2 separate regions of the Homo sapiens genome follow, and region 1 is linked to region 2. Evidence: fine-mapped expression QTL. Tissue or cell type: fibroblasts. Region 2 holds a variant in brackets; the other region holds the start of a gene. All regions are shown on one strand. Distances are between the middles of the regions.

Region 1 (2,763 bases), 280 kb before region 2:
GTTCATGCAATTAAACTAGCCTGTTTAATAGAAGCTGCAGGAAAACTGATAACTATGTATTCAAAAACATGTAATTTTATGCCTGAGTTTTAAGTCATTTAGATTTTGCAGATTGCTATTTATTTTATGTTCAGTTTTTGAAATAAATGCTTAAAAAAAACGCTTTAGTACTAGGCTTGAATACTGAAGACTTTAAATATAACAACAGACCAGGAGAGGAGCAGAAGTGTGGGAACTTTAAACCTATTTCTTTCTTAATCCCCTCGGAGAGCTAGACTGGAACACTGGCTGGATCTTCCAACATTTCTGGGGGTGCTCTCTGTTCTTTGCGGTGGCCCTGCCGCCAGGTGAACGCTGCCGGTGGGAGAGCACACACTTAGTGCGGCCAGCTGACCTTCACAGTCTGGGGGGAAATTTTAAAGGATTGTGGAGAAGAGGCCTTGAGACTTCAAGAGGAAGAAGAAAAAGGGGCCCAATGAAGCCTGAGCCTCCCAGGAGGTAGAACTGAGTTAATGAACAGGGCTGATTATCCAAGGTAATTATGTAAAAGAGAAGGCTAGGAGGAGTTCTAGATGGCTGCAACTTGGAGTTTACTCTGCCTAAGGTGAGTGTTTATGTTTCTGTGTTTTTGCTTCTCCGGCAAGGTTTTGTTTTGTTTTGTTTTTTTCTTCCCTGTTCCCTTCACCCAAGGCTCAGTGTGCAAAAGCAGCTCGCTCTGCGTGGCAGACCCCATTCTAATCCTTCTCTTTCCTTAGATTCTGAGCCCGGTTAGAATTAGCCTCCGCATCACGGGCTCCTGGGACCCTCCGCTCTATGCTCCTCGAGGAGGGAGCAGCTGTGTTCATCCCCCTACCCGCAAATGCCTCCGGTTCTTATTTGGCAGACACTCCCGCGGTGCTGCTGTCCAAAGACACACCTTCCCAGCCAGCCCAGTGGTCACGTCTCGCCCCAGCGATTCGGGAGAAGCAGTGGGAACTCTGAGCTCCCCGAATCGAGCCCGCTGCGCCTGGCATCTCCCTTCCCTTCCCCTTGACAAACGACCCAACCTCAATCATCCCTGCTCCTTCCGAACGCTAGTTTTGTTTACGGAGCAAACCGAGGCTTTGAGCAACCTGCGGTTGCACGGCTCTCCTTCGGCTTGGGGAGGGAGGGGTAGCGTTCACAGTTCTCCAGTGTGCCATAGACTGTTAGACCAGATCCTTCAGATCTAGAGGCACACGCAGTGGGTGACAGGAGAGTGCCCCCTCCCCCCGGGCGGGTGGGGGTGGGGAGAGGAGCAGGGACTCGGCTTGGAGAAGGAGGCAGGGAGGCAGCTGCAGTGCTGCGAGGGGTGCGTGCGCGTGTGCCCAGCTCGCCTGCCGTCTCCCGGCTCCGTCTGCGCTCCTCGGTGCGTGGGGCACGAGGGTCCGAGGGCCGGGAAGCCAGAGCAGCGCCTCTCGCCCAGGCCTCGCTTTCTCTGGACGCCCGGCAGTCCCCGGGGCTAGAGCGCACGGGGCGGGGCGCGAGACCCGGGCCGCGCTCCCCGCCCCCGCCTCTTGCGCCCTGCCTGGCTCCCTCTCCATTGAGTTTTCCTGCCTCGGGTGCCTATCAATGGTCCTGCTCGGGGATGCACACGCAGCTCGCGGCCGGAGGGGGGTAGCAGCCGCCGCCTCCAGGTGCAGGTTCTCTCCGGCCGCCGCCGCCACCCGCTGTCGCCGCGACTCGAGCCCCGGGCGCACTGAGGTCTTGGCCATGGGGCTGCGGAGGCTGCTGTTGCTGGCGTGAGAAGGGGCGACGGAGTTGTCGCGCTCGGGGGTCCCCAGCTGCCTGCATGGATGTCTTCAGCTTTGTGAAGATTGCAAAGCTTTCGAGGTAGGGGCTGCGCGGGTTCCGTTTGCACCCAGGGCCGCTGCCGCGGGCAACTTGGTGCCTTATTTTTCGGGAGGCTGGGTAGAGGCAAAAGCTGGAAAGCGCGACGGGGCTTAAGACAAACGAAGTGGCCGGGGGCTTCCACGTTCAACTTATTTCTCACTGGCTGCTGAGGCTTGTGTAGCGGCGGGTGTAGACCACACACAGAGAGGTACATACATGCCCTCACCAACACACCGACATTCACGACAGTTTGTTTTCCCTAAGGAAAAGCCCCAGCGGTGTTTGGGGTCCCATGTATAATTCAGGGCTAAGAGAAGATGGTTGTAATTGCTACTGCTAGGGAAACCCAGAAGTGCTTGGAGCTTGGGTGCCTGCCTTCCAAGCTGCAAAGACCAAAAGTGCCGCCTTCCCCCAACTCCTAAATTACACCTCCACACCTCCACAAAGTCAGCTCCTAGATTGACCAGGTGCTCCCAACGGTAACCTAGATGGCGAAGTCATGTAGATAGAAGAGAAAGACTTTCAGCCTTTTTTTTTTTGGGGGGGGGGTAACTATATTCTTAAGCCTCGAAAGATTTAGAAATTTTCTTCTAAGTGGCCATGTTGTTAAAACAGTAGCTAAAACTAAATCATCGATTCAGACATTTTTGGGTAGTACTGATAAAAGAGGAACATTTCCACGCTTGGGCCGCCTAGGTGTTGCCTGGCCAGAGCACTCCTCCAGGTCTTCTGCCCTGCTTATGCTTCCAAAGTCTTCGTTTGAGCCACAGAGTAAGGTTTGTGCTGCTTGCTATGTGGCATTAATTGGGAAGAGCCCAATAGGAGTGGTCTTAGAAAACCATGCCCAACCTTCTCTGCCCCTGGAGCTCTTTATAGCAGCTACCACCAGGACGTAGGAGGTAGACAGTTGGG
Region 2 (2,763 bases):
GTCAGGCTGGTCTCGAACTCCCGACCTCGTGATCCGTCCGCCTCAGCCTCCCAAAGTACTGGGATTACAGTCGTGAGTCACCGCACCTGGCCACATCCATCAGTATTTCTAAGTGTAAATAAAATTTGTTTCTATGTGACAAGGTTGAGATAAGCATAGAAGAAAACTGCTGCTGAACCCAGAACCCAGACATAATCATGTAACTGAACTTTCTTGCTGCATCCTATGATAATTCCCTTGTTGCTAGCTTATAAATAGCGGAAAACAGCCACCATTTCTTCAGCTTTTCTCCAGAAGGGCCAAAGATGTTACATTTATTTTTGTTTCTTCTTCTTAAATAATTCTTCATGAATTTCAGTTTCCCAGAAGGCCTCACAATTTTCTAACACCCCAGATACCTTTCTTGGTATTTCATGTCATGGGTTATGTTTATCCAAGGAGACTTTATTCATTGGATTTCTTAATAAGAAAGAATGACTTGATTATTTATGCTCTAATATTCCCTATGCTTTTAAAATTGCTGACCCCTCCCTCCTCCTGTATCATGATACTATCTTGCAGGGAAAGTAGAATCTACTGGATGAAAAGTCCCTCAACCTCCTGCCCCCAAACCTATTGATTTACTCATATCCACATACTACATCACCTCCTCCCCCTTGTGAGGGTGGAAGATAAGTTGTTTTTCCTGTCTCGGACAAAGCATCCTGTCTCCTATAGTACTGCAACAGATTGAATCCAGAAGCCGATAGAAAAAACCCACTGTCATCTGTCGAGCAATGTATTAAAGAGATCTATCTGCAAAATTGTAAAAAGATGCTGTTCTTCTCACCAAATGTTTTTGTTTTGGAAAATATGGTTATGTTTTATAAAAAGATATGACTTATGAAATAGAATTGTTGTTTTTAAATACATAAAAAATATTTCAATAATTTATCAGTTTTACTTTCTAGTATATTAGATATCGGTAGATGTAAGCAACATGCACAAAAACTCTTCGGGGGTCCTCAAAAATGTTTCAGAGTGGAAAGGAGTCCTGAGGGTGAAATGGTTGAGAAGTGCTGGTCTAAAACTCCCCAACCCAGTCAAATCTGGCTTCTGCCCATATCAGTTCACTGAACCTATTTGCTCCAAGGACACCAAATTCAAGGGCAAGTCCTTACTAGACTTCTGGGAATCATTCACACTGTTCTTGACCGTTCTTCTGGAAATGC[T/C]TTTCCTCTGACTTACAGGAGTCCAGAGAGGAACACCATGTACACTACTGGTGTTCTTCCTACCTCCCTGGCTCCTCCTCCTTTATCTCCTTCATGGGCTTTTCTTCCTCTGCCTAACCTTAAAGGTTAACGACCTGTGGGGCCCTCACCTCCTCCCACACTCCATGCTTCTTTGTTTTCCGTTACCGTCTTTAGGCTGGTGACAGCTGTGTTCAGCCCAGATCTTTCTGCCAATCTTCATACCTAAATACTGAGCAGCTTGCTGGGACACCTCTACCTGCCTATTCCACCAGCACCTATAATTTAACACGCCCTGAACTTATCATGTCACCATCACGCCTGCTCCTTCATCTCTATTCTCATGGCCCACACTCTGTCTAGTTGCCCATACCAGAAGTTTGGAAACCATTCTTGACTCTTTCCTTTGTCTTAAACCCTCACTGTCTTTCACAATATCCAAGCAATCTCCAAGCTCTGTGTCATCAGTGTCCTGAATCCTCAAAACAATCTGCTGTTCTCTAACTTCTAACACTGTCCCACCCGGGCCTCCATTGTCTCTACTAATGGCAGTAGTCTCCTAACTGGCTCTTTTCTAGCCTGTTTTCCACTGTGCCACCAGGGTCATCCTTCCAAGGCACAGAGCTCATCAATTCACTATTTCTTCAAGGCCCTGAAACACTTGTCCCCTCCACCTCTCACCTCACTTGCTGCATCTCTCATCACCTGCCCTCCCTCGGCATTCTGTGCTGGCTCCAAGGGCTTCCATGCTGCCATGGGCTCTCCCCTTCAGCCCCTCACACATGCTGATCCTTCATCCTTCATCCTGGGCCACCATCCCTGCCCCATCCCCATTTACACCTTCTTACCCTGAACACAGGCAGTGCTGACTAACTCAACACCGGTCGTTGATATTCAAGTTTAGATTTCTGACACACATCTAGCCTTCTGTAACACCCTATGTGTGCTCTGTGATGGCGTTTGTCAATCCACACATGTAACCGCATGTTTGATGTGACCTTCAGAAGGGCAGCAGCCTTGTCTCTCTTACATGTCATAGAATCCTCACAGCATCCTTTTCCAGCTCCATCACTTAACCACAATCTCTCCGTACCTATTTGTCGAATGAGGAAATTCGTATTTCTTTTCAATTTATCTTTCACTTTAAAGGTGAGCAGATTTACTGATTTTCCTTTGTCAAACAATCACAGGTGGCTTGAGCACAGAAAGGCAGTGATTTCAGTGCTTACAAAAATATAGCATTTATAGGTGTTCGAAGACATGGATATAATTTCACCTACTGCCTGCATGAAAGACTATCTGCGTCCTGATTGGCAATGGGAGTTGGCAACACATTGACCAGGTTAAGTCTTCTATCTATATATGAGGAGGGTGGGGTGTGAGGAATTGACATCTGATCAAAAGTTATTGTCCTAAGAAGTATGTCACCAAAAGTAATTCCATTTTTTTATGTCAAATGTGACCTTTACTTATAAAAACCCTAATGACAAAATAATCCTTTTTAGAAAACTGTTTTGTCACATCTGTGAGACAA

Alleles and levels. Positions count from the first base shown, and alleles are read on the strand shown. Sizes are in standard deviations (SD) of each study's normalised expression.
As copies of C replace T in region 2, the expression in fibroblasts of the gene that starts at base 1,312 in region 1 goes up (small effect, 0.40 SD a copy in GTEx).

What was found. PIP is the estimated chance that this variant, and not a neighbour inherited with it, causes the effect.
Region 1: it holds the start of FRMPD4, and the variant in region 2 is fine-mapped to the expression of FRMPD4 in fibroblasts (GTEx, PIP above 0.99).

The regions. Positions count from the first base shown.
Region 1 is chrX:12,137,162-12,139,924 of GRCh38, forward strand. It overlaps FRMPD4 (FERM and PDZ domain containing 4), which reads left to right and starts at 1,312. Exons shown (of 17, transcript NM_001368397.1): 1 at 1,312-1,851. The coding sequence starts at 1,811.
Region 2 is chrX:12,418,566-12,421,328 of GRCh38, forward strand. The region is part of intron 1 of FRMPD4 (FERM and PDZ domain containing 4); the gene reads left to right. Among named protein-coding and RNA genes, the nearest start is that of FRMPD4-AS1, 45 kb to the left of the region's middle. The variant T/C (reference allele first, on the strand shown) is at 1,212.